Linked DNA regions of Homo sapiens. The protein of the gene in region 4 interacts with the protein of the main gene of each other region in a biochemical or structural test. Each region holds a gene or a part of one and is shown on either strand. Other genes may lie near its edges. The genes, in order: DAP3, BCAS2, PIAS2, ESR2, REXO4, NLRP6 and CCDC62.

Region 1 (2,710 bases), on a different chromosome or scaffold from region 4:
AGGCTGTAGTGGGCCCTGATTTTGCCAGTGTACTCCAGCCTGGGCAATAGAGTGCGGCCCTATCTCAACAGGAAAAAAAGCTCCTTCAAGCTAACTTCTATATCCTTTTAAAATGTCCCCATCATTATTTTTTTGGAGATAGGGTCTCACTCTGTCACCCAGGCTGTAGTGCAGTAGCACCATCATAGCTCACTGTAGCCTTGAGCACATGCCACCACACCCAGCACTGAATGTTGTCTTTTTCTTTTCTTTCCTTTTTTTTTTTAGAGGCATGGTCTTAACTATGTTGTTGCCTAGGGTGGTCTTGAACTGCTAGCCTCAGGCAATCCTCCCACCTCGGCCTCCTAAAGTGCTGGGATTACTGGCGTGAGCCACCATATCCAGCTCCTATCATTCTTTGACCACTTCTTTATTTTCTGTCATGAGAATATGTTCCAGACCCCTCTTATACTTCCCATGCCCAGCCCTGGAATCTCCATTTCTCCAAAGAGCATTGGCTTATTTTAGAGGAGACTGGTATTTAGCAACCAAGGCCTGAGTCCTAGGTATACTCACTGCTACTGAGGTGTCCTTTCTCCTAGGCCCTCACAGCAAAGTTCATAAATAGATGTACATACATACATGTATGTATGTATATGTGTGAACCATATGCATATACATGTTTATACACATCCACACACATCTGCGTTTGTTTCTCTAATCATATTAAAAAACTATGAGTTCCTACTAGTAGCCAATTCCATGCTACCATCACAGCAGTCATTATACCCTTTCCATATCTGTAACTCTAATCTAAAATAATGAGAAATCTGCTGCCAGTAGCCATAGTATATTTACTTATTAGCTCAATACTAGAATATATGAAAAGTAGTTTCAGATTTGATAGCTCTCAGGCTGGGCGTGGTGGCTCATGCCTATAATCCCAGCACTTTGGGAGGCCGAGGCGGGCAGATCACGAGGTCAGGAGATCTAGACCGGCCTGGCCAACATGGTGAAACCCCGTCTCTACCAAAAAATGAAAAAAAAAAAAAAAGAAAAAAAAATTAGCCGGGCGTGGTGGGGCGCCTATAGTCCCAGATACTCCGAAGGCTGAGGTGGGAGAATCGCTTGACCCTGGGAGGCAGAGGTTGCAGTGAGCTAAGATGTGCCAATGCACTCCAGCCTGGGAGACAGTGAAAAAGAAAGAAAAAAATAAGTTCCTTGGGCCGGGCGCAGTGGCTCACGCCTATAATCCCTGCACTTTGGGAGGCCAGGGCGGGCGGATCACCTGAGGTCAGGAGTTCAAGACCAGCCTGGCCAACATGATGAAATCCTGTCTCTACTAAAAATACAAAAAATTAGCTGGGCATGGTGGTGCAGGCATGTAATGCCAGCTACTCGTGAGGCTGAGACAGGAGAATCGCTTGAACCCAGGAGGCAGAGGTTGCAGTGAGCCGAGATCGTGCCATTGCACTCTAGCCTGGGCAACAGGAGCAAAACTCAGTCTCAAGAAAATGAAAAAAAAAAAAGAAATACAGTTTGATTACTTCATTTGTTTCCATTTGTTTTCCATCTAGCGTATTTTTTCCCATTATTTTTATTTTTTATTTTATTTTATTTGAGATGAAGTCTTGCTCTGTCACCCACGCTGGAGTGCAGTGGTGCAATCTCAGCTCACTGCAACCTCCACCTCCCAGGTTCAAGTGATTCTCCTGCCTCAGCCTCCCAAGTAGCTGGGATTACAGGCACGCATCACCACGCCTGGCTAATTTTTTTTTTTTTTTTTTTTTTGAGATGGAGTCTTGCTCTGTCACCAGGCTGGAGTGCAGTGGCTTAATCTCGGCTCACTGCAACATCCACCTCCCGAGTTTAAGCAATTCTTCTGCCTCAGTCTCCCGAGTAGCTGGGACGACAGGTGCATGCCACCACGCCCAGCTAATTTTTGTAATTTAGTAGAGATGGGGTTTCACCATATTGGCCAGGCAGGTCTTGAACTCCTGACCTTGTGATCTGCCCGCCTCAGCCTCCCAAAGTGCTGGGATTACAGGCATGAGCCACCGTGCCCGGCTAATTTTTGTATTTTTAGTAGAGACAGTAATTTTGTATTTTTAGTATTTTCACCATGTTGGCCAGGCTGATCTCGAACTCCTGACCTCAGGCGATCTGCCCTCCTTGGCCACCCAAAGTGCTGGGATTACCAGCATGAGCCACCATATTCCTTTGAAAATATGAAACATTAACTTTGTTTCAAAAGCCAAAACTGTCCAAAATACATACACACAATATGTGTGTGTGCGTGTGTATGTGTGTGTATTCACACAAGTAGCATCCGCCTCCTCAAGCATTGCCTTTTTTTTTGTGTGTGTAGACATGGTCTTACTCTGTCACCCATACTGTGACAGTATGTGTAGTGGAGCAATCGCAGCTCACTGCAATCTCAACCTCCTGGTCTCAAGCAATCCTCAGCCTCCCGAGTACCTGGGGCTAGAGGCACGCAGCACCACTCCTGGCTAATTTTTGTATTTTCTGTCGAGACAGGGTTTTACCACATGGCCCAGGCTCGTCTGGAACTCCTGGGCTCAAGCAATATGCCCATCTCAGCCTCCCAAGGTGCTGGGATTACAGGTGTGAGTCACTGTGCCCAGCCACCTCTTTTTAATATATAGCATTTGTGGCCACGTAGAGCACGAGTAGCCAGCCACCATATGTGGAGTCCATATGTGGAGTCCTG
Region 2 (3,159 bases), on a different chromosome or scaffold from region 4:
ATAATTATATGGTACTCTGTATTATTGAACTTTTCCCCTGTGCTAGTTACAGCTGACCTGGACTGGTATCTATTTTTTATTTTGCTATGCATATGTTACATGCAAATATGGACTGATATCTCATTCTACAACAGTTTTCTTTTTCTCACCTCTCTCTAGTTAGCAGTAGACAGGAGGAGAGAATGACAAGGTGAATGTATATGCAGAAATATAGAGATAAAAGGGGGTTGAGAAATAAAATAAGTGGGTACTCAGATATATTCCATCTTTTCTATGACAAGAAGTCATGACAGTTTAAGAAGTGACAAAAGGCCGTGTGGCTCACACATGTAATTCCAACACTTTGGAGGCTGAGGTGGGGAGATTGCTTGAGCCCAGGAGTTCAAGACCAGCCTGGACAACGTGGTGAAACCCTGTCTCTACAAAAAAGTAATGAAAATTAGCCGGGCATGGTGGCTTATGCCTGTAATCCAAGCTACTTTGAAGGCCTGAAGTGGGAGGATCAGTTGAGCCCAGGAGGTTGAGGCTGCCATGATTGCACCACTACACTCCAGCTTGAGCAACAGGAGAGCAAGACTCTGTCCCTCCCCTCCGCAAAAAAAAGCTGGGTACAGTGGCTCACGCCTGTTATCTCAGCACTTTGGGAGGCCGAGGCAGATGGATCACTTGAGGTCAGGAGTTCGAGACCAGCCTGGCCGACATAGTGAAACCCCATCTCTACTAAAAAAAAAAATACAAAAATTAGCAAGGCATGGCAGTACATGCCTGTAATCCCAGCTACTTGGGAGGCTGAGGCAGGAGAATCTCTTGAACCAGGAAGCAGAGGCTGCAGTGAGCTGAGATCTCACCACTTCGCTCCAGCCTGGGCAACAGAACGAGACTGTCTCAAAAAAAAAAAAGTAACCTAAGTACTCCAAGATCAGGCAGGGCATGGTAATCCCAGCAGTTTGGGAGGCCAAGGTGGGAGGATTGCAGCTCCTTGGGAGGCTGAGGCAGGAAGATTACTTGATCATGGGAGGTGAAGGCTGCAGTGAGCCATGATCACACCACTGCATTCCAGCATGAGTGACAGTCCTCGATTATGGAGTGTCCAACATAGTTCTTGGCACAGAGCTCCATAAATATGATTTTTGGCAGAAAAACTTGAAAAAGTTCACTTTTAATTGGTACTATTTTAATGTATTTTAATCTGATTTTCCTCTTTTCCTTCAGAAATCTAGTTCATATGATTGAACACGCACAGAAGGAACTTCAGAAGTTAAGGTAAATTGTTTTTTCCTATTACAGAATGAAGTTTAAGTGAACCTTTAATAAATAGAAAATAGGAGGAAAAAGAAAGCAAAGAGACTGCAGCCAGATGAAAGTAAACAATTGATCCACTCTCTTTGTTCAACATCTGACACTGGGTTTGCCCTACCTAAGTAGAGGAGAAATAGGCCTGAGGTCTGAAAACATCTCTGCCACTTGCAGCTTGCAAGTCTGCAAACATAGAAAGGCACTTTTAGAGTGGGAAAAGTTGCAGAATAACACATATAATCTGATTTTTAAAACCAATTTCTACACACACATATAGGAAAGCCTGGAAGGACACCCAGCAAAAACTCAACAGGAGTTATCAGGAAAAAGGAGACATGCATGAGAGGGGGGACTTGAGACTTGTAATCTGTGTGTGCTTGTGTGTGTGTGTGTGTGTGATTTCTCACAATGAGCATGTTTTATGAAACTTGTAATCAAAAAATAATTAGAAGAAAGGTAATTTCTACAGTTAGCCTATAACTGTACATAATATTGTTCTCATGGGATTAAGATATTCTCTTGTGTTATAGAGTTTTCTGTTGATTTAGGTCTTACATTAAAATGTAATTGGGTTGTATAAATAATTTTTTACAGAAAACATATTCAAGATTTAAACTGGCAGAGAAAGAACATGCAACTCACAGCTGGATCTAAATTGAGAGAAATGGAGTCAAAGTGAGTATCTATAATTCCATCATCTTTTAAATTGTTTAGCCCTTTCTAAGGTCGATTCAATAATATGATTCAAATAGCATTCAAATGGGATGCCACAGGTAACAAAGAAATGCTATTTTCTGAATTCACCCTTCCCCGTCTCTGCCTCTTTATAAGGTGTTAAAGAGAACTATAAACGAGAATTGAACCATTGGCGAAGGATCCTTTGCTAAATTGAACCATTGCTAAAGGATTCTGGTCTTAGAATACCCTGTTTTTAGTCTAGTATTTTTGGCCTTGAATAGAACTCTACCTTTATTCTCCTTTTAAACGGAAAAAAAAAAAAAATAGGCACGGTGGCACATGTCTGTAGTCCCAGCTACTCTGGAGGCTGAGGCAGGAGGATTGCTTAACCTGGAAGGTTGAAGCTGCAGTGAGTCATAATCACACCACTGCACTCCAGCCTGGGCAACAGAGCAAGACCTAGTCTTTAAAAAAAAAAAAAGGAAAAAAATTATTTTATAAAATCTTGTAGGGAGGGAGATTTCATACTTGGTAATTTTTTTGTACCTCAGGTTTATGCATTTTTAAAAATGTTCTTTTACATACACACATGTATACCTTTATACAATATAATCTTGAATATTTGTGTCATTTCTCTCTTCCTTTTTGCTTGGCCATTCCCTTTCTCCCTTCATTACTCAAGTCATTCTTGTTCCACCGTCTCCATGTACGTCTTACCAGTCTCGTTGGTACCCTTTCACGCTTTTTCCTCAATTTAATAAACTATTGCCTCTTTCCTTTTTGTTGATTAAATACTATCTTCATCACTCTTTCCTCTTTCTTCTGGTTTGCAAGTTCTCTCATCTGTTTCTAATTTGCTTTTTTATTAAACTTTTATTTTTAGATAATTATAGATTCACATGCAATTGTAAGAAATAATACAGAGAGCCAGGTGTGGTGACTCACATTGTAATCCTAGTGCCTTGGTAGGCCAAGGTAGGAGGATTGCTTGAAGCCAGGAGTTCAAGCCAGCCTGGGCAACATAACGAGACCCTGTCTCTACAAAAAAATGCTTTTAAATGAGCCAGGCATGATGGCATGCACCTGTAGTCTAAGCTCTTCAGGAGGCTGAGGTTGGAGGATTGCTTGAGCTCAGGAGTTCCAGGCTAGTGAGCTGTGATCACACCACTGCATTTCAGCCTAGGC
Region 3 (4,380 bases), on a different chromosome or scaffold from region 4:
TGAACCCCATTTGGTCATGATTTGTTATCCTGTGTATATTTGTTGTTGGATTTGTTTTGCAGAGTTCATGGGGGAATGTTGGGTATTTAGTTTTGTTGCAATGCCTGCCTGGTTTTATTATCAGAGTAATGCTGACCTTGTACAATGAGTTGGAAGTAGTGGTATTATTTCTCCTCAAATATTTGGTAGAATTCCCTAGAGAAGACATTGGGCCTAGGATTTTCTTTGTGGCAAAGTTTTTAACTACAGATCCAACTTATTTAATAGACATAGGGCTTCTTAGATTATCTGTTTCTTTTGGAGTGAGTGTAAATAAGTTTGACTAGAAACTGATTTTTCTGTTTTTCTTTTTTTCTATTTGTTTGTTTTGTTCTTTGTTATTTCTCTTTTCTTGCTTTTACTATAATTTGCTTTTTTTTCTAGTTTCATAAAGTTACTGATTTGAGACTTTATTTCTAATTAGGGAAGATTAATGCTATAAATTTTCCTTTAAATACTACTTCAGTGTTTAAATAATACAGTCCACAAATTTTATTACATTTTTATTTTCATTCAGTTTAAAATCTTATTTTTATCTTTGACTCATGTTTCTTTTGTTTAGTTTCCAAGTTTTCAGGTTTTTCTGGTACGGACTTAATTTGAACTTAATTCAAATACACTTATTTTAAATTTATTGAGACTTCTTTTATTTCCCTTTTCTTCCCTCCTTCCCCTACCCCATTATCCTTTTTTCTCGAAGTTAAAGTTTATAAATTATTTTACTATATAGTAACCTTTATCTGCTGATGTTTGTTTTTTGTGCTGTGTTAGAGGTTGTTCTTACTGCCAGCCTCAGCTAGGAGGCTCCAGGTATCTACTTCTCTCTAGCCATTTATACTCATTGAGTTACACAGGTGATGCTCAGTAAGTTACTTAACTATTATGTTGCCTGTTACAGATTTAAAACATAGGACAAAGGGAGTGTAATAATTGTTGTAAAGTATAAAGTATTGCAATACCAAAAGAAAAGGGGGTCAGCTAACATTACTTATGTTTTCAAGGTAATGTGTATTACTTTCTTATTTCACCTTTAGGCAAAGCTGTTGATCACATGTATGTACTTCTTAATTGTTTTTTAGGCTTTTTATGGAAATTCTCAATGACTGTTCTGATGTAGATGAGATCAAATTCCAAGAAGATGGTTCTTGGTGTCCAATGAGACCGAAGAAAGAAGCTATGAAAGTATCCAGCCAACCGTGTACAAAAATAGAAAGTATGTGTAGAATAGCAGCAGAGAGTAAAGCAGTGAGACTCGTGCAACATTATCATTAATCTTGGCCCCTAGAACTATACGTTTGGAATTCAGCTTGTTGACTCAGTCTTTTGATGATATATAGTTTTCCCCCAAATGATTTTTATTCTTTCCTGAAGGAATGTGCTAAAGTTTATACCATCTTATCAGCTATTTCATAGTATATTTTTCCTGTGTAGAATAAAGGAAACATTCATCTAAAATCATTTTAAAATATGATGTTTGTTACAAAACAAAAAGTCACAAATGAATTTATATGGACAGTTTTTCAGAATTGTTCTTAGAGTATCTGTAGGTGGAACCCTAGGTGGAGGTGAGGTTAGAGAGGCTGCATCATTGGTTAATGGCCTTGGTGGTTTGGGGATGGTCACAGGTTAGTTGCTCAGAAAGTAAACAAATTGTTACCTTCCATTTCTTTGTGGAGAAGAATTTTAACATTGCCTTGATTACCTAGAATGTATACTCATCCATCAACTGCCTGCATCCATCCACACTAAGTAGGGAAACTGAGGGCATTTGGAGTAATTGAAACGCACAGGTGAACTTAGAGTTTCTTTTTATCTAACAGTCTCATTGAAACCCACACGTGAACTTAGAGTTTCTTTTTATCTAACAGTCTACTCACTGCATTTCAGTTTTGTTCTGATTACATTTGAAGTTCTAACAAACAATGTAATGAATGGAGTAAGAAGAAAGGGGAAAAAATAAAGGATTTATGCCATTATTAATTATTCCTCTGCGATTGACACTAAACCTGAGTGCAGTGACCAAGGTTTCTCTCATCTTTCAGAAAAATGGGGAGTGATTTAGTTGATAAGTTTCTGTTGCTTTTCCATTATCAACTGTCATTCATTTTTAACTAAATACATTACAGATAATAACATACTTTTCTGTGAAAATGTGAGTTAACAAATATGGTATGTGAGACTGTCTTTGTGGGTAGAAAGAACCTACGTGATTAGCAGATAATTCATAAGAAAAGTTTAAATGTCTTAGTAACTTAATTGAGAGGTTTGGGTTTTTTTCAACTTATCAAGATGAAAGTTTTTATCAAGTTCTGGCTTATGGTGAAAAGTCTGTACTTTCTTTGATATAAGCATAATTGCTAGAATGGAAATATCTGGTTCTGAGCTAACTGTGCCACATGTGTGCGAGAATACATAGCTGTTGAACTCACCCATTCTTGTCCCATGACCTGAGACCAGTTCCCTAACTCTGCGTGTCTTTCTGTAAAACGACTGCTGACCTGCAGAGACAGGATGAGCAGTAGGAGCTGCACAAATCCTTCAGTGGTATTGGAGGCATAACTAAGAACATTCTGTCTGAATGAGACTTCTAACCATCTGTCAAGGAATAGTGCTCACCTGTCTCCCTAGGTGAACAACCATTTTACAGACAGAGGTCTGGAGTTAGGGAGTTGGTATTTGTCCATGGGTTGGAGTATGTGGCTTCACTGGCTATATGTTGTCAGGAACATACTATACTGAATATACTAGACTCTACCACTAGAGTTTATTTGTGTTATACCTTTAATTTTTTTTTCCTTTTGTTTCTTTACATGCAGGTTCAAGCGTCCTCAGTAAGCCTTGTTCAGTGACTGTAGCCAGTGAGGCAAGCAAGAAGAAAGTAGATGTTATTGATCTTACAATAGAAAGCTCTTCTGACGAAGAGGAAGACCCTCCTGCCAAAAGGAAATGCATCTTTATGTCAGAAACACAAAGCAGCCCAACCAAAGGGTTTGTTAATTTATAGTTCACTATTGTTCATTACCCTTGCAACTAATTGCTCTTGGATAGATTTATAAATGTCTCTTTGGGAAATGGCATAACTGTAGAAGGCTATTTTAATTTGCCTTTGTTGAGTTGAAATATTTTCGAGTAAGCACATTGTTTATAGGAAGCAAATTTTGATGGAGAAAATATTTACATCTTTGGAAAGTGAGCGTGTGAGGTATTTATTTCCTACCTGAGACTTTTTGTTATTTTCTTGAACCTGTTTGTAAGGAAATTTGGCATCTCAGACCAGATGAGAAAGTCTGGTGTAATGGAGTGTGGAACTGGGAATCTGACAAGTATGGATTCCAATTTTGGCACACCATCGCTTACTTGTTCTGTGATCTTAGATGAAATACTTAATTTGATTGAGCCTCTTTTTTGTGTTCTGTTAAATGGAGCTAAATAACGCCTATATTACAGGATCATTTTCAGGTTTTAATGAGATGAAAGAAAGCCTCGGTGTCAGGCATGTGGTAATTTCCCAATAAAAATTGATTCCTTTCCCTTTTCACCCTCTCCAGGGCAAAATATAGGTGGGTAGGATGGCATTCTACCTGAATTTTAGCGTGGATTCTCTGTAAGTTATCTGGCAGAAGGCATTACTGACCTGCATTAAAAATCAGGTTTGGGTATTTAACAATAGTTGCTTTTTCAGAGAGGTTTTGAACCATAAAAGGAGATAACAGGAGAGTTCTCCTGGCTGTCTACGAACACATTCTTTCAAACTTGGGTTTGCTAGTGTCATCTTTTTGGCCTCTTGGTCCACTTGGTTTTCTAATGGCTTTACTGAGTTATAATTTACATAGCATAAAATGTACCCATCTTAAGTATATAATGGCACAATTCAGTGATTTTAGTAAATACATAGAGCTGTGCAATCATCACCATGATTCAGTAGTAGAATATTTTCAACACCCAAAAAACTTTCTTCATGTTCTTTTGTAGTTTATTCCTATTTACACCCCAAATCTAGGCAATCGTTTTTTTGTGTCTATAATGCCTGTTTAGACATTTTATATAAAATGTCTTGTTTTGCAACATTGTTTATTTTTATAATTTTAAGAATTAAACCTTTTCAGCTGCCTTCTTTGCTGTTAAAATACTTACATTTCCAAATATAATTTACACATATATTAAAGGCATATATTTACTTCTACCCATTTAATTAGAATGAGGTGGGGTTTTTGTGTGTGTGGAACAAAATGAGGAAGTATTTCAAGTGGATTTTTTCCTGGTGTGCCAATCATTTATTGCTCCTTTGAGACAAATTGGTTGGTACATCTGTAATTTAAATGATAAACAGAAAATGAAGTT
Region 4 (4,380 bases):
CTTAGGTCTGTGTCCAACTTATTTGTAGATGTCAGGATTTTTAAATTTCTGTGCTCATGTCTTGAAGTCTAGATTTTCCTGCAGGGTGGAGATGTATAACCTTTTGTAAACTAATATTTTTCACTGTTTAACACAGTATTCAATTCAGTATACAGTTAGGAGCCTGTTATTGGTAGGTACTGCTAACATATATATATATAAAATTGATGTCTTTTTCCTTTTTCCTTTGTTCTATGAAAAACAGCCTGTATTTTAAATATGTAACTTACCTTGCATACCCAGTTACAGTGGTAGTAACTAGGATATGCAGAGTGGCAAGTTTATGAGGAGCTAGCAAACTGGATAGTTGGCCTTCCTAGCTGGAATTATGACAGGTCTTGAAAATGAAGGGCTTTTAGTGGAGAATCTTTGTGTGGGTGTACTTGAGAGAGGGCAGGAGAGTTAGGGTGACCTAGAAAGATAGATTGCTGGACTTGTATATGTTTCCTCAAAGCCAGACTGCAGCATTTTGTTAGTAAATTGTTGTGTGTTCTACTGTCAAACCCAGGCCTGGAAGGGGAGTTGAGTGCATTCAGCCTAACTTCTGGATTGGCTGTGTCATCTTGAATCCCTTCACTCGGAATTCTCTCTGACCCTGTCCCAAATGAATATTTGAATTTGGTCCAGTTCCTACAGAGCATGGTCTGTGGCTGTTGTTGGTGTTAGGGAAGAGCAGAAACTTGCTGTTGAGAGAGAAGACACTTGAGAAGACTGATGAACTCTCTCCCACCCCTGCCTTCGAGGCTTGGTCCTCCTACCCTATTCAAACCCTTGAAACTCTTTCCTATCCAACTAAATAAGCGCCAATTGGTTACTAGGAGAATTAGCTTTTCCTCATTTTAGAAGGAAACAGGGTTTCCTTATGTACATGTTCTTAAGAATTACATGCAAATCAGTTATTAATGATGAGTTCTCTGGTGATTTTGGAGTGTTTTATCTTCCTAATATTAAATTAATTGAGGGCCTTAATATTTTGTTTTGAAAGAATATATTTAAAAAGGCTGGGTGTGGTGGCTCACGCCTGTAATCTCAGCACTTTGGGAGGCCTAGGTGGCTGGATCACTTGAGGGCAGGAGTTCAAGACCAGCCTGGCCAAATAATGAAACCTTGTCTCTGTTAAGAATACAAAAAATTAGCTGGCCATGGTGGCTCAAGCCTGTAGTCCCAGCTACTCAGGAGGCTGAGGCATGAGAATTGCTTGAACCTGGGAGGCCGAGTTTACAGTGAGCCGCGATCATGCCACTGCATTCCAGCCTGGGCAACAAAGCAAAACTCTATCTCTAAATAAATAAATAAATAAATAAATAAGAATACATTTAAAGATAATAATTGGCCAGGTGTGGTGGTTCATGCCTGTGATCACAGCACTTTGGGAGGCCGAGGTGGGAGGATTGCTTGAGGCAAGGAGTTCAAGATCAATCTGGGCAACACAGTGAGACCCTATCTCTACAAAAATTTAAAAATCAGCTGGGCATGATGGTGCATGCCTTTAGTCCCAGCTACTTGGGGGGCTGAGTTTGGAGGATCCCTTGAGCCCAGGAGATCAAGGCTGCAGTAGGCCATGATCTTGCCACTACACTCTAGCCTGAGTTACAGAGCTAGAGTATAACCCCCACCCCCCAAAAAAGCTAATAATTGTCAAACAGCTACTTATGCACATCAAGGATGCTTGTTGCTTAAGAAATCTTTTTAAATCTTTTCCATGAAATTCCTTCTAGTTGCTGCTTTGTGAGCGTGAATTTTTTACTTCTGCAGGACACACAAATGTGGAGCATTTGAACTGAATGCTTGGGAAAGTGTGATGGGCAGGTGGAAGAAGAATAGGGATGAGGACTTATCCTCTATTCTTATCCTCCTAGACTTATCCTCCTAGTCTGCAAGCTTGAGAATATGGCATCAGGAATATGTGGCATTTTGTCCACACACACAGTGTTGGCAGGCTACCAGCAGCCCAGCTATCTGGACTAGGGGTGATGGATTTCTGTGGACAGAAGTCAAAAAGTAAAATTAGGAGGCAAAAATCTTCAGGGTGGCCATAAAGACATTGTAACTTGTCTGGAAATTCCAACCAACACTAAATGTGTATCCAGTGATATACCAATAGACTGGCTTCATCTTCTTGGATGTGTAATAATACCTTACAGAATGCTTTCTTTTTTTTTTTCTTTTTCTTTTTCTTTATTTTTTTTGAAATGAAGTTTTGCTCTTGTTGCCCAGGCTGGAGTGTAATGGCACAATCTCAGCTCACTGCAACCTCCACCTCCCAGGTTCAAGCGATTGTCCTGCCTCATCCTCCCGAGTAGCTGGGATTACAGGCATGTGCCACCATGCCCGGCTAATTTTGTATTTTTAGTAGAGACGGGGTTTCTCCATGTTGGTTAGGCTGGTCTCAAACTCCCGACCTCAGGTGATCTGCCCACCTTGGCCTCCCAAAGTGCTGGGGTTACAGGCGTGAGCCACTGCGCCCGGCCTCAGAATCCTTTCACAGACATCATCTCATTTCACCCTCAGAGCACCGTGAAAAGGTACAGCACCAAATAGGTACCTGATTCTACTGAAGAAGATGTGGCAGCTCAGGGAGTTTGTGGATTTGTCTAAGATTGCCTGGCTTTCAGGCAGAGCTGGGGCTAGAATGAATGTTCTGCTCTATCCATTGATAGAATATACATAAGAACAGGCTTGATGGTGGCTGACCTTTTTTTTTTTTTTTTTTTTGAGACAGAGTTTTGCTCTTGTCACCTAGGTTGGAGTGCAGTGGCGTGATCTCGGCTCACCGCAACCTCCACCTCCTGGGTTCAAGCGATTCTCCTGCCTCAGCCTTCTGAGTAGCTGGGTTTACAGGCAAGCGCTGCCACACCCGGCTAATTTTGTATTTTTAGTAGAGACTGGGTTTCTCCATGTTGGCCAGGCTGGTCCCGAACTCCTGATTTCAGGTGATCTGCCCACCTTGGCCTCTCAAAGTGCTGGGATTACAGGCATGAGCCACCCGCGCCCGGGTGACTGATTTCTTATTAACTAGATTTACAGGTGCTTTGATAAAAACCAGTCTAGTCTTGGCTGGCACGGTGGCTCATGCCTGTAATCCCAGCACTTTGGGAGCCCAAGGCGGGCGGGTCACGAGGTCAAGAGATCAAGACCATCCTGGCTAACATGGTGAAACCCCGTCTCTACTAAAAAATAGAAAAAATTAGCTGGGCATGGTGGCGGGCACCTGTAGTCCCAGCTACTTGAGAGGCTGAGGCAGGAGAATGGCTGAACCCGGGAGGTGGAGCTTGCAGTGAGCCAAGATTGCACCACTGCACTCCAGCCTGGGCAACAGAGCAAGACTCCATCTCAAAAAAAAAAAAAAAAAAGTGTAGTCTTTTTGGAGTGTTTTTCTGCCATTTCTAGGGCCAAACTTTTTCTTGTCCATGAATCATTGTCAAAATTGGGAATTTTAAATACTACTTTTTTCTTTTAATTCAAAAGCCATAGTATGTTTCCCAGCCAGTACATTAGAACACCATGCACGATCCCATGTGTACAAAAAGCTTTCTGGCTGAATTCAGATGTGACCTGAGAGGGCCAAATACAGGGGTGTGTGCTGGGAGAGAGAGAGAGGTCTCTGGACAGAAAACAAAGCCTGTTCACCACCCAGGATATGGACCAACTATTTTAGGTTATGGTGACTAAAGAAAATTGACATGCAAATAAATGAATAATTCTTAGAATCAGGATGTCTGGGTACTGGTTCTTTGGTTGGCCAGGTGAAATTCCATGCCAGGCCCAACAATTAAACTCTTTAGAGACAATTTTTTCCTGTTGTACCAGAACATTGTACTGAGGCCATGTTTGAACATTCAATCGATGTGTTGGGAAAACTCTGCCCTACAATGTTAAAGAAATTAAATCTTTTGGGGAGTCTTTCCTTTGACCAGTTTATATCTCTGTTTTAGAGGAGGGCTTCTCAACCAGAATGGGTTTGTTGACTTATTTTTACAGACCTCTGGTAGAAAGGAGGTCTTTTTTTGCTACCTGTTCTCCTGTCTCAGAGAACTATTACAATGGTGTAAGTTCATCATTTCTTCCCCTTATTATGGCTCTGCTTAGGAAGAAAAACTCTTTGCATTGGCTACCAAGTACCTAACTATTCAAGATGCCACTGACAAAGAGTTAATCTGTGAATCATGTGAATCTGATATATCTGAAATATATCCAAACAAAAAGCACCTAGCCTTTTAATGACTCTCCAGAAGTCAGTTCTCTAACTTTAATTATCATCCTTCTGGGGATATGTGGAAATTCTACAGAAGTTGATTGGTGATATGTTGAGATGTGAGATCTGTATTTTCTAAGCAAAGT
Region 5 (3,976 bases), on a different chromosome or scaffold from region 4:
CATCAACCTCTGCCTGTTACACACGCACATCAAATCTACCCACTCCCGGCCGGGCACGGTGGCTCACACCTGTAATCCCAGCGCTTTGGGAGGCCGAGGCGGATGGATCACTGGAGGTCAGGAGTTCAAGACAGCCTGGCCAACGTGGCGAAACCCCAGGTCTACTAAAAATACAAAAATTGGCAGAGAGTGGTGGCGTGCACCTATAGTCCCAGCTACTCAGGAGGCTGAGGCAGGAGAATCGCTTGAACCCAGGCGGCAGAAGTAAGGGAGGAGACCACCCCTCATATTGTCTTATGCCCAATTTCTGCTTCCAAATAAAGAAGTAAAAACTAAAAGGCAGAAATAAAATCCACAGGCAGACAGCCCGGCGCCGCGCCCTGGGCCTGGTTAAAGATCAATCCTTGACCTAACCGGTTATGTTATCTATAGATTTCAGACATTGTATGGAAAAGCATTGTGAAAATCCCTGTCCTGTTCTGTTGCGTTCTGATTACCGGTGCATGCAGCCCCCAGTCACGTACCCCCTGCTTGCTCAATCGATCACGACCCTCTCACACAGACCCCCTTAGGGTTGTAAGCCCTTAAAAGGGACAGGAATTGCTCACTCAGAGAGCTCGGTTTTTGGAGACGTGAGTCTGCCGATGCTCCCCACTAAATAAAGCCCTTTCCTTCTACAATTCGGTGTCTGAGGGGTTCTTGTCTGCGGCTCGTCCTGCTACAGAGTGAACTGGCAGGAACTCCTCCCGGTGCCTGGGCCTCAGTTTCCCCACTGTACGTGGAAGATGAGCCGCTGTGAGGCTGAGCAAGGAGCAGCCCAAGGCGGGAAAGGCTCGAGAGTCCAGGACGCAGGCGAGCGACCTAGCCCGGCTCTCACTAGCCCCACCGCCCAGTGCCCCCAGCTCAGCTGCCCTACCAGGTGCTACACACACAGCGGCCCCCCAGTTCCCTTCCGGCGTTCGCATCTCTCATCCCCATCCCGGATCTTGGGGAGGTCCTCGGCTTGCCCCAGTCAAACTCGAGGTCGATGACCCCGGATGCCGCTGGCTAAGGCGGCGGCCCAAGTCCCGTGCGGGTGAACCGCCCAGGCTGCGCGGAACCAGAGGCAGGGATCCGGTTTCCAGCCGGTTGTGGAGAGACGAGCGCTTCCGGGGACTGGAGCGTGCGTGCTGAGGTATGCGCAACGCGTGCGGGGTCTCTTCCGGAGTCTTTTCCTGGACGGGGTCCCTGCGGTGGGTGTGTTTCGGCCTGGCCTGGGCAGGCGCTTGTGCTGCCAGGGCGCCGGGCCCGGGGAGGCCGGGGTCTCGGGTGGCCGCCGGCCCAGGCGCTGGACGGCAGCAGGATGGGGAAGGCGAAGGTCCCCGCCTCCAAGCGCGCCCCGAGCAGCCCCGTGGCTAAGCCGGGTCCTGTCAAGACGCTCACTCGGAAGAAAAACAAGAAGAAAAAAAGGTTTTGGAAAAGCAAGGCGCGGGAAGTAAGCAAGAAGCCAGCAAGCGGCCCCGGTGCTGTGGTGCGACCTCCAAAGGCACCAGAAGACTTTTCTCAAAACTGGAAGGCGCTGCAAGAGGTGAGGCTTGAGGGGGCCCGGGCGGAGCGCTGCGCAGCTCATTCCCGCAGAACGCGACGGAGGGAAAGACTTGGGTAGCCCCAAAAGACCTGTAAAGGCAGATTTGAATCGAAATCTTGTAAACAGCTTTTCACAAGAAAGGTGGCCTGTTGAGGGAGGTCTCGAACTTGTTTGCTTGAAAGAAATTGATGAAAGAATTATTTCAAGTACAAAAAAGCAAAGATAAACCCTTGTACCTTTTGCATAATGAACTAACTAGAATGGATTTTACAAAGAGAAATTTAGCTTAAAATCCCGAAACCAGGCCGGGCGCGGGGCCTCACGCCTGTGATCCCAGCACTTTGGGAGGCCGAGGCGGGCAGATCCCCTGAGGTCAAGAGTTCAAGACCAGCCCGGCCAACATGGTGAAACCCCGTGTCTACTAAAAAAGTACAAAAAATATTAGCCGGGCGTGATGGCGCGCGCCGGTAGTCGCAGCTACTCGGGGAGCCTGAGGCAGAAGAATCGCTTGAACCCGGGAGGCAGAGGCAGTAGTAAGCCGAAATCGCGCCACTGCACTCCAGCCTGGGCGACAGAGCGAGACTCCATCTCAAACAACAACAACGAAAGAACACACTGGTCTGTGTAGCAAGACAGGGAGAAAGAAGATTCCTGTGTAGAAGTGAAAAGCAGATAGCAGACATGTGATGGGGTTCTAGCGACACTTACGGTCTTGAAGTAAATACTAATTGAGCTCCTAAAAATGTGCACTCTGCCATGTGCTCTATGCCATGCGTGTTGCAATCCCCACAATAAGACTGTGAGGTGGACACTTCCATCATCGCTATTGTACAGATGAGGAAATAGGCTGGAAAAGTTTAAATAGATCATCTAAGATTGCGGCTGGGAACCAGGTGGCTGACTCTGGAGTCCATGCTTTTAAGGCTGTGTTGTACCTGCTGTCTCCCTAGTGACCTGCACTTCTGTAGAGGTTGCCTGCTCTCTCCTAGACACTCTTCCACGTGCGTCACTCATACATTCTTACCACATCCCTTGGAGCTCCCTTGGAGCTACCTCCTGTTAGGATCATAGCTCACTGCTGCCTGGGCTCCAGTGATTCTCCTGCCTCAGCCTCCCGAGTAGCCCACACGTGTAATCCCAGCACTTTGGGAGGCCCAGGCAGGAGGATCACTTGAGCTCAGGAGTTCAAGTCCAGCCTGGGCAACATGGTGAGATTCCATCTCTAAATAAAAGTAAAAAGTAGTTTTTTTAAAAAAGAAATGTGATCCCCAGTGGTGGAGATGGGGCCCATAGGAGGTATTGGGTCATGGGGGTAGATCCCTCATGAATGACTTGGTGCCCTCCCCTCAGTAACGAGTAAGTTCTCACTCTGCTGGTTCATTTGAGAGCTGGTTGTTTAAAAAGAGCCTAGCACCTTTTTTGCTTGCTCTCTCACCACGCAACACACCTGCTCCCCCTTCACCTTACACCATGATGGGAAGCTTCCTTCGGCCTCACCAGAAGCAGATGCTGGCACCATGCTTCTTGTACAACCTGCAAAACCATGAGCTACATAAACGTTTTTTCTTTATAAATTACCAAACACAGGTATTCCTTTATAGCAGTGCACAATGAACTAATACAGATGGGGTTTCACTTTGTTGCCCAGGCTGGTCTTCAACTCCTGACCTCAAGCAATCCTCCCACCTCAGCCTCCCCGAGCGCTTCTTGAACCTCCTAATACTCTGCACAGTATCTCAGTGCAGACATTCCTGTCTTAACACACAGGACCAGTCAAATTCCCGTGGGCAGCCCCAGGGTTCTGTGGGATTTCTTGAACACCAACTCTTCTTCCTTCTCCCAAGAAAGAAAAGCAAAATAAGTGAATGGAAGGGATGTGTGCTATAGGGAAACTTTGGAGTGTTTTCTAATTCATCCAAGAAAGTCAGCCCTTCAGTTCTTTACCTATCACAGAACAGGTAAGTAGCACCCGCCTCATCATCGCACTGTGGTGGCGCCCACTCCCACTGGGGATTTGAACACAGGGAGGAAGCTGGGCTCTAAGACTACAGGAGCCTCTGCTTGGGTGACAGCCAAGGTGTGTGGCTGCTAGCAGTTCTTCAGCCACTCCAGTTTGACAGAAGCTTTTCTTTTCATTTATGACACCCCCCACCTTCCTGAGATCTTCACAGCAGTAGCAAACCAGGGAATCTTGTAAAAAAAAAAAAAGCGATTTCTGTGTAGCAGGATGTTGGCCCAAGCTGTGAGGGAAGTTAACTCCAAAATTCTTTCTAGATAAGCTGAAAAGGGAAGTGGTCTGTGGTGTCCAGCCACTCAACAGGTACCCAAGGTGTAGAATGAGTTTGACATTTTGTATGCATGAAGGAGCAGGTGCAAAATGCATTATAATAAGATAAGCAAAGAAACAGC
Region 6 (4,977 bases), on a different chromosome or scaffold from region 4:
TGGCTCTTCGGTGTCCTCGAGCCCTTTGGCCCCCTCGGTCACCTCTGGTGCCACTCCGGGGCAGCCCTGTCCCTGTCCCTGCACCCACCGCAGGGCCTCCTGCTTCACACGCTCTGAAACCATGCAGCCGAAGTGGCGCTCGATGTCGCGCATCCGCTCCGCGCTCAGCAGTCCGAAGAGGAAGCGCGTGGTGAGCACCAAGTGGCTGTGCGGCTGGGCGTCCCCACGCAGGAGTGTCCCAACGCCGCCAGCCGCGGTCCTGGGCACCCCGCCGTCCTCCAGCAGGTAGGACAGTGCCGCGAGGAACTCCTGGAAGCTCTGGTCGATGAACTGGTAGGTGACCTCTGTCTCCAGCACGCCCGGCAGCTCCTTTTTGCTGAGAAACAGCGTCTGCACTTTGGAGCCACGAAGCTCCAGTTGCTCCAGTTCCTTCTCGGCAAACTGCGCCCTGCGTCCGAGGACGCCCTCGCGGGCCAGGCGGCACAGATTGCGCAGGTCGCCCTGCAACCGGGGCCCGTCGGCTACCGGAGCCGAGCTCAGAACGCTGGTGATGAAAAGCAGGTACACTGACGTGGTGGTCTTGGACGTGCGCGACAGGTCCCGACCGAGCTCCAGCTGCTGGCGCAGCACGGTGCACACGATCCAGCACACGAAGGGCACGAAGCACAGCGCGAACAGCGTCTCGTTCTCCTTCACGAAGCGGTAGGCGCGCTCGGCCCTCCTCTCATCCCGGAAATACTTGTAGAAATACTTCTTCTTGTCCTTGTCGGAGAAGCCGCGCACCTCGGCGCACTGCGGGGAACACAGGCGGCCCTGCAGCCTCCCGGGGGCGGCGGCGCGCGTGGTCACCAGCAGGAGGGCCGTGGGCAGCAGCGCCTTGCTCAGCAGCCCGCCTAGCACCCGCGCGCCGCTCGCCGCCTCGAAGGGGTCTGTGCAGGGCGCGGCCTCGGGGCCCCCCAGCGCCGGCAGCTCGTCCGCGCCGTCCAGGATGAAGAGCAGCCGCTGCGGCTGGGCCAGCATCTGCGGCACCGGCGCGCCGCGGTCGGGGCACTGGTCCAGGATCAGGTCAGCCAGGCTGCGCGTGCCCGGCCTCTCCAGCAGCTCGCCGCAGGGCATGAAGAAGGCGAAGTCCACCTGGCCCTGGTACAGCTTGCCCGCCGCCCAGTCGTACAGGATCTTTTTGGCCGCCATGGTCTTGCCGATGCCCGCCGGGCCCTGCAGCACCACGGTCAGCGGCCGCCGGCCCTCCTCGTCGCGGCGGAAGAGGCGGTTGAAAGTGTGCGTGTCCGAGCGCCGCGCGCGCCCCGGCTCAGGCTCTTCCGCGGGCCCCATCGCCTCCTCCGGGGCGGCGCTCTCGGGCGCGATGAGCAGCTTGGTGAAGCGCTTGGTGATCTTCACGGAGCGGGCGTTCCTCTCCTTCACCCGAGCGTGCAGCTGCAGCACGTGCTCCCGGTACTTCTTCTTGTACTCTGGGCGCAGCGGGAGACAGCGCGGGGACAAGGGTCGGAGGTGGGGCAGGCTGCGCCCTCCGGGAGCCCACGCCCTCCCCGGCCCTGCTCAGGCCTCAGTTTCCTCTACGGGACCACAGCCCACGCCCCTGGCGGCCCTCCCACCCCGGTCCTCCCCGGGACCCTCCAAGTGGGGTTGGGGACACTCGTGCCCCCCCAGCGAGAGACCCACCGGACACGGAGAGCAGCGTCCCGGAGCCGAGCCCGAGCCCTGGAAGGGAAACTGGGGTGAGGTTCCGCCGAGGGCGGGAACAGGGGAAGGCGCCACGGGGGTCCGAGTCACCCTGAGGAGCACGCAGGGTCCTACCCCTGGGGCCCGCGAATTTGTGGATAAAACGCGCGGGGGCCGGGGACCGCGCCGGGGCTTCTCCGGGAAGCGGGAAGGAGGGCAGCCCAGCCTCTGCCCAGACAGGAGGGACCTCCCGCGCAGAACTCACGCTGCAGCCGCCGCTCCTGGAGCTGCGCCGCCACGTCGCGCGCGTCCGCCCTCTTGAGGGTCTTGCGGGCCACCTCCAGGGCAGGCTCCGGGCCGTAGAACTGGGCCAGCTGCTCCGCGAGGTCCACGGCGTCCGCGCGCTCCAGCCGCCCCCACGGGATGCTGCGTCCGTCCGGGCCCACGTCGCGCAGCTTGTGGCGGAAGCGCTTCAGCTGCTCTTGGCTCAGTTCCTCCAGCGCAGCCAGGAGCAGCTCGCGGGCCACCGCGAGGCGCGGCCCCGTGCTGGAGGCGGGCGGGCGCGGGTCATCGGGGAGCGGCCCTCGGGTGACCCCCGCCCGCCCCCGACTCTGGCGCCGGAGAACCCACCGCGGGCAGGGCCTCAGGGAGTCCCGGGCCAAGCATCGTCTGGATCCATGGGGTGGCGGGAGGGGGCAACGGGGAGTGACCCCAGACTTTTCCCTCCCCCGTCCCCGGACCCGGGTCGGGGCGTCTTGGTGTTCTTCGCCCTCTGAGGGTGAAGTGGGCACTGGCCGCCGCTGATCTGAGCTCTGGGGGGCACCTTCCTCCCCTGCACCTCCCTTTCTGCTTCTGTCCTTCCACACCCCAGGACAGGTCACATGCCCCGAGGGAGGTATTTCCAAGGAACCCTGAGCTCTCTTTCCTCGCTTTCCTTCTTTTCCCTCTCTTCCCGATCCCGGAGCAGAACTGGCCTCTTTGGCAGCAGACACTGCCAGGCCCAGGCTGTATTCCTGGGCCCCCACCCCTGCCACACTTTGGTGGGGCCCAGCTTGGGGCCTTGCACCAGGGCCTGAATCTGAGCCCCTGGTGGGGAACAGACTCCACAAATGCCCTCTGTGGGGAGGCAGTGCTTGGCTCCTGAGCCTGGGAGTGAGGGTGGGGGAAGGATGTGGACAAGGGTGGAGAGCCTGAGGAAGTCAGCGGGTGAGGTGGAGGCCCCAGAGGGCTGAGACCAGCCGGTTCCCAGTGACCACCCTGGGGCCAGCACTCACCTGGAGCAGGGGGCCTCTGGCTGGTCCATGGGGTCTCTTCCTCCCTGGGTCTAGCACTCCGGGGCAGAGGTGGGGATCAGAGAGGTGATTCCTTCACAGGCTGAGCTGGAGCCAAGTCTTAGAGGTTGTCCAGCCCGGTCCATTCCCCGGGTCCACACACCGCAGCTCAGCTGGCACGAGATGCTGTTGGGCACCGTGGCACACGCAGAGCATTGCCCTTTAAGGGCTCCGTTTGGTGACCTTTGATTTTCTTACTCCTTTATCCCATTAATGTTCCCCAAGAACCCCTGGGTGTGGCATCGGGGCATGGCTGTGAGCAGGCAGCTTCAGAGCAAGGTGGGTTGTGTGAAGGAGGTGGCTGGCTCAGAGCCAGGCCTTCAGCTGAGGCCTGGGGAGAGGTTAGACTCTGAAGGCAGGGGTGAGGAAAGACTTCCAGGTAGAGGGAACAGGGGGGACAGCCAGCAGCACGCACCATATATGGGAGGGAAGGCAGTCTCCAGGGAGACGCCGGGCAGGGGTCTGCACTGCAGCCTCCCCACCCGACCTGAACAGCTGGCGGGCAGAGGCTGGACGTCAGGGGTGTTCGAGACCCCTGGGACCAAATGTGAGAGTGTGTGGAACGGGGGGGTTAATATGTGGAAATGAGAGGTGCTGGGTAAAATAAGGCTGAGACCTACTGGGCTGCATTCCCAGGAGGGTAGACATTCTAAGTCACAGGATGAGACAGGAGGTTGACACAAGATACAGGTCATAAAGGCCTTGCTGATAATGGTGTAAAGAAGCTGGCCCAAAACCACCAGAACCAAGATGGCAATGAGAGTGACCTCTGGTCATCCTCACAGCTCATTACTCTAGTTACAGTACATTAGCACACTAAAAGACACTCCCACCAACACGATGACAGTTTATAAATGCCATGGCAAAGTCAGGAAGTTACCCTATATGGTCTAAAAGGGGAGGAACCCTCAGTTCTGAGAATTGCCCACCACTTTCCTGGAAAACTCATGAATAATCCACTCCTCGTTTAGCATATAATCAAGAAATAACCATAAAAATGGGCAACCAGCAGCCTTTGGGGCTGCTCTGCCTATAGAATAGCCATTCTTTTATTCCTTTACTTTCTCAATAAACTTGCTCTCACTTTACTCTTTTTTTTTTTTTTTTTTTTTTCATGGAGTCTCGTTCTGTCGCCAGGCGGAGTGCAGTGGCACGATCTCGGCTCACTTCAAACTCCGCCTCCTGGGTTCAAGCAATTCTCCTGCCTCAGCCTCCTGAGTAGCTGGAATTACAGGCATGCACCACCATGCCTGGCTAATTTTTGTATTTTTAGTAGAGACGGGGTTTCACCATGTTGGTCAGGCTGGCCTTGAACTCTTGACCTTGTGATCTGCCTGCCTTGGACCTCCCAAAGTGCTGGGATTACTGGTGTGAGCGACCATGCCTGGCACTTTACTCTTTATGGATTTGACTCAAATTCTTTCTTGCATGAGATCCAAGAACCATGATGTCTGGATCAAGACCTCTTTCTGATAACAGTTTGGCTGTGTGTCCCCACCCAAATCTCATGTTGAATTGTAATTCCCAATGTTGGGGGAGAGACCTGGTGGCAGGTGATTGGATCATGAAGGTGGATTTCGTCCTTGCTGTTCTTGTAATAGTGAGTAAGTTCTCATGAGATCTGGTTGTTTGAAAGTGTGTAGCATGTCCCACTTTGCTCTCTCTGTCCTTTTGGCCACATGAATATTTGCCTGCTTCCCCTTTGCTTTCTGCCATGATTGTAAGTTTCCTGAGGCCTCCCCAGAAGCAAAAGTCTGTACAGCCCACAGAACCAGGAGCTAGTTAAACCTCTTTTCTTTATAAATTACCCTGTCTCAGGTATGTCTTTACAGCAATGTGAGAATAGACTAAGACAAATTATAACAAGTAAAGAGATTGAATTACTAATTACAGGGAAAAAAAACTTTCCCACAAAGAAAAGCTCTCAAGGGAATGCTTCCCAACTCATTCTCTGAGGCCTGTGACA
Region 7 (3,500 bases), on a different chromosome or scaffold from region 4:
AGTGTAGATGTTTAAAAATTAACTTTCTAGTTCTGCTCCCAGCTGGAATTAAGTGCCGTTTATGAAGAACTAGAATCCTCTTTCAGTTTTACGGTTAAGTATTCATTCAGTATTGGTGTCTGCTTTCTGCCTTCCACATAGATGAGAAATCTGCTTTTGGATGAAGAAAACACAACATTAATAAAATACAATCAATTAATATTGGAGAGCATGCTATAAGCTCCTGGCGTCTAAAATATTAACTCTACATCCTGATTTTCATCAACATCAGGACATGCAAAATACTATAAATATGAAAACTCAGCGGAGAGAGGGAGGGGAGAGGAGGAGGGATGGGGGCGGGGACGGCGCTGCTCAGGCTCTCTGCTTCCCCAGTGTCTTTGAAATGCTGATATGCTTACCTTGAAAAGATCCGAAATGCCTGTACGCTTTAGCTTATCAAACTGGGTTCTGAGGAAACCGCATATGAAATGCAGGTTTGATAGAAGTAAACACAAATCCAGAAAGTGCTTACTGGGTCAATACACGTTTTTATGAAGATTTTACTCGATGTAAAACTTTTTTTTTTTTTTTTTTTTGAGACGGAGTTTCGTTCTTGTCGCCCAGGCTGGAGTGCAGTGGCCAAATCTCCACTCATTGCAACCACCGCCTCCCGGGTTCAAGCCATTCTCCTGCATCAGCCTCCCCAGTAGCTGGGATTACAGGCATGCGCCTCCATGCCCGGCTAATTTTTTTTTTTGGTATTTTTAGTAGAGACGGGGTTTCGCCATGTTGGCCAGGATGGTCTCAAACTCCTGACCTCAGGCGATCCGCCCACCTCGGCCTCCCAAAGTGCTGAGATTACAGGTGTGAGCCACCGCGCCCAGCTACCCCATGTAAAACTTTTATAAAACTTTACTCCACATAAAGACTTCTTGGCTAGGCGTGGGGGGCCACGCCTTTAATCCCAGCACTTTGGGAGGCCGAGGCGGGCGGATCACTTAAGCTCAGGAGTTCGAGACCAGCCTGGCCAACGTGGCGAAACCCCGTCTCTACTAAAAATACAAAAAAAAAAAAAATTAGCCGGGCATGGTGGCACATGCCTGTAATCCCAGCTACTTGGGAGGCTGAAGCAGGAGAATCGCTTGAACCCGGGAGGCGGAGGTTGCAGTGAGCTGAGATCGCACCACTGCACTCCAGACTGGGAGACAAGAGCAAAACTCTGTCTCAAAAAAAAAAAAAAAAAAAAATTAGCCAGGTGTGGTGATGCGCACCTGTAATCCCAGCTGCTTGGGAGACTGAGGCAGGAGAATCGCTTGAACCTGGGAGGTGGAGGTTGCAGTGAGCTGAGATTGCACCACTGCACTCCAGCCTGGGCGACAGAGCAAGACTCCAACTCAAAAACAAACAAACAAAAAACTTCTTTCTGGACAGACAGATGAAATGCTAAAACATTAATTTTGATTTTTTTTCAGCTATAATTTTTTTTCTTTTCTTTTTTTTTTTGAGACTGAGTTTCACTCTTGTTGCCCAGGCTGGTGTGCAATGGCACGATCTCGGCTCACTGCAACCTCCGCCTCCTGGGTTCAAGCGATTCTCTTGCCTCAGCCTCCTGAGTAGCTGGGATTACAGGCATGCACCACCAAACCCAGCTAATTTTTTGTATTTTTAGTAGAGACAGGGTTTCACCATGTTGGCCAGGCTGGTCTCAAACTCCCGACCTCAGGTGATCTGCCTGCCTCGGCCTCCCAAAGTGCTGGGATTATAGGCATGAGCCACCATGCCTGGCCCATATACCACATTTTCTTTATCCATTAGTTGATTGATGGGCATCTGCGCTGGTTCCGTATTTTTGCAATTGCGAATTGTGCTGCTATAAACATGTGTGTACAAGTGTCTTTTTCATATACTTTTCCTCCACGTAGATACCCAGTAGTGGGATTATTGGATCAAATCGGAGTTCTACTTTTAGTTCTTTATGGATAACCTCCACACTGTTTTCCATAGGGGTTGTACTAGTTTACATTCCCACCAGCAGTGTAAAAGTGTTCCCTTTTTACCACATCCATGCCAACATCTATTATTTCTTGATTTTTAAATTATGGCCATTCTTGCATGAGTAAGGTGGTACTGCATTGTGGTTTTTCTGTTTGTTTGGTTTTTTGTTTGTTTGTTTAGAGACAGAGTCTCATTATTGTCGCCCGGCTGGAGTGCAATGGTGCAATCTTGGCTAATTGCAACCTCCGCCTCCCAGGTTCCAGAAATTCTCCTACCTCAGCCTCCCGAGTAGCTGGGATTACAGGTGCCCGCCACCATGCTTGGCTAATTTTTGTATTTTTAGTAGAAACGCGGTTTCACCATGTTGGCCAGGCTTGTCTCAAACTCCTGGCCTCAAGTGATCCACCCGCCTTGGCCTCCCAAAGTGCTATGATTATGGGCATGAGCCACTGCGCCCGGCCCGCATTGTGGTTTTGATTTGCATTCCCCTGATAATTAGTGATGTTGAACATCTTTTCATATTAGATTCTGATTTTTAAAGCTGTGTCTATGTATTCACTTCCCTAGATTTAAAATTCTAGGTATTGAGAATAATAACTTTTTTTTTTTGAGACGGAGTCTTGCTCTGTTGCCCAGGCTAGAGTGCAGTGGTGCCATCTTGGCTCACTGCAACTTCTGCCTCCTGGGTTCAAGTGATTCTCCTGCCTCAGCCTCCCAAGTAGCTGGGATTACAGGCGCCCACTACCGCGCCTGGCTAATTTTTGTATTTTTAGTAGTGACAGACCAGGCTGGTCTCGAACTCCTGACCTCGTGATCCAGCCGCCTCAGCCTCCCAAAGTGATGGGATTACACGTGTGAGCCACCACGCCCGGCCTTTTTTTTTTTTTTTTTAAGAGACAAGGTCTCACTGTGTTCCCAGGCTGGAGTGCAGGAGAACTTTTTGATCTGCATTTCTTTGCAAGTAATTGACATTTTACTCTGATTAAATTTAGAAGTATGCATAAATTGGTCGAGCAAAAGAGAAAGTATTACAAGTCAAACAAATGCATGGCCTTGACTCAACGTTATCGATGTTCCCAAGTTACTTATTAAATATTAATTGAGATATAAGGTGAGATAAGCAAAGGTGACTTACTCGTGATCACGATGAATACTGAAGTTGCCTTTTGTTTCCTTCAATAACTGACAAAGGTATTTTTTTGAGCTGACTCTTCTGGGACCTCTGACTTCTAGAAAACAACTCCCAGATTAGTATTCAGGATAGAGAAACTAAAAAATTCTTAAGAAGACTAAACACAAATATAGCAGAAATGCCTTTAAGAGATGTTAGATGAGGCTGGGCGTGGTGGCTCATGCCTATAATCCCAGCACTTTGGGAGGCCAGGGTGGGCGGATCACTTGAGATCAGGAATTCAAGAGCAGCCTGGCCAGTATGGCAAAACCCCATCTCTACCAAAAATACAAAAATGAGCTGGACATCGTGGCGCCCGCCTGTAATTCCAGCTACTTGGGAAGCTGAGGTG

What was found.
Region 1: the proteins of ESR2 (region 4) and DAP3 form a complex in vitro, tested with the Homo sapiens proteins (one study listed by BioGRID).
Region 2: the proteins of ESR2 (region 4) and BCAS2 form a complex in vitro, tested with the Homo sapiens proteins (one study listed by BioGRID).
Region 3: the proteins of ESR2 (region 4) and PIAS2 form a complex in vitro, tested with the Homo sapiens proteins (one study listed by BioGRID).
Region 5: the proteins of ESR2 (region 4) and REXO4 form a complex in vitro, tested with the Homo sapiens proteins (one study listed by BioGRID).
Region 6: the proteins of ESR2 (region 4) and NLRP6 form a complex in vitro, tested with the Homo sapiens proteins (one study listed by BioGRID).
Region 7: the proteins of ESR2 (region 4) and CCDC62 form a complex in vitro, tested with the Homo sapiens proteins (one study listed by IntAct).

Annotation. Positions count from the first base shown.
Region 1 is NC_000001.11:155,734,091-155,736,800, forward strand, and holds part of DAP3 (small ribosomal subunit protein mS29), read left to right. Parts: intron 1-2,710. UniProt on the Homo sapiens protein: As a component of the mitochondrial small ribosomal subunit, it plays a role in the translation of mitochondrial mRNAs. Involved in mediating interferon-gamma-induced cell death. Displays GTPase activity in vitro.
Region 2 is NC_000001.11:114,568,804-114,571,962, reverse strand, and holds part of BCAS2 (pre-mRNA-splicing factor SPF27), read left to right. Parts: intron 1-1,212; coding exon 1,213-1,263; intron 1,264-1,890; coding exon 1,891-1,971; intron 1,972-3,159. UniProt on the Homo sapiens protein: Required for pre-mRNA splicing as component of the activated spliceosome. Component of the PRP19-CDC5L complex that forms an integral part of the spliceosome and is required for activating pre-mRNA splicing.
Region 3 is NC_000018.10:46,826,606-46,830,985, reverse strand, and holds part of PIAS2 (E3 SUMO-protein ligase PIAS2), read left to right. Parts: intron 1-1,118; coding exon 1,119-1,252; intron 1,253-2,855; coding exon 2,856-3,027; coding exon of another isoform or gene 3,028-3,043; exon of another isoform or gene 3,044-4,380. UniProt on the Homo sapiens protein: Functions as an E3-type small ubiquitin-like modifier (SUMO) ligase, stabilizing the interaction between UBE2I and the substrate, and as a SUMO-tethering factor.
Region 4 is NC_000014.9:64,287,361-64,291,740, reverse strand, and holds part of ESR2 (estrogen receptor beta), read left to right. Parts: intron 1-4,380.
Region 5 is NC_000009.12:133,415,211-133,419,186, reverse strand, and holds the start of REXO4 (RNA exonuclease 4), read left to right. Parts: upstream 1-1,176; 5' UTR 1,177-1,342; coding exon 1,343-1,567; exon of another isoform or gene 1,568-3,525; intron 3,526-3,976.
Region 6 is NC_000011.10:276,576-281,552, reverse strand, and holds the start of NLRP6 (NACHT, LRR and PYD domains-containing protein 6), read right to left. Parts: upstream 3,147-4,977; 5' UTR 2,984-3,146; coding exon 2,955-2,983; intron 2,227-2,954; coding exon 1,946-2,226; intron 1,720-1,945; coding exon 1,681-1,719; intron 1,470-1,680; coding exon 1-1,469.
Region 7 is NC_000012.12:122,823,072-122,826,571, reverse strand, and holds part of CCDC62 (coiled-coil domain-containing protein 62), read right to left. Parts: intron 3,207-3,500; coding exon 3,153-3,206; 3' UTR 3,113-3,152; intron 154-3,112; exon of another isoform or gene 151-153; coding exon of another isoform or gene 103-150; 3' UTR 1-102. UniProt on the Homo sapiens protein: Nuclear receptor coactivator that can enhance preferentially estrogen receptors ESR1 and ESR2 transactivation.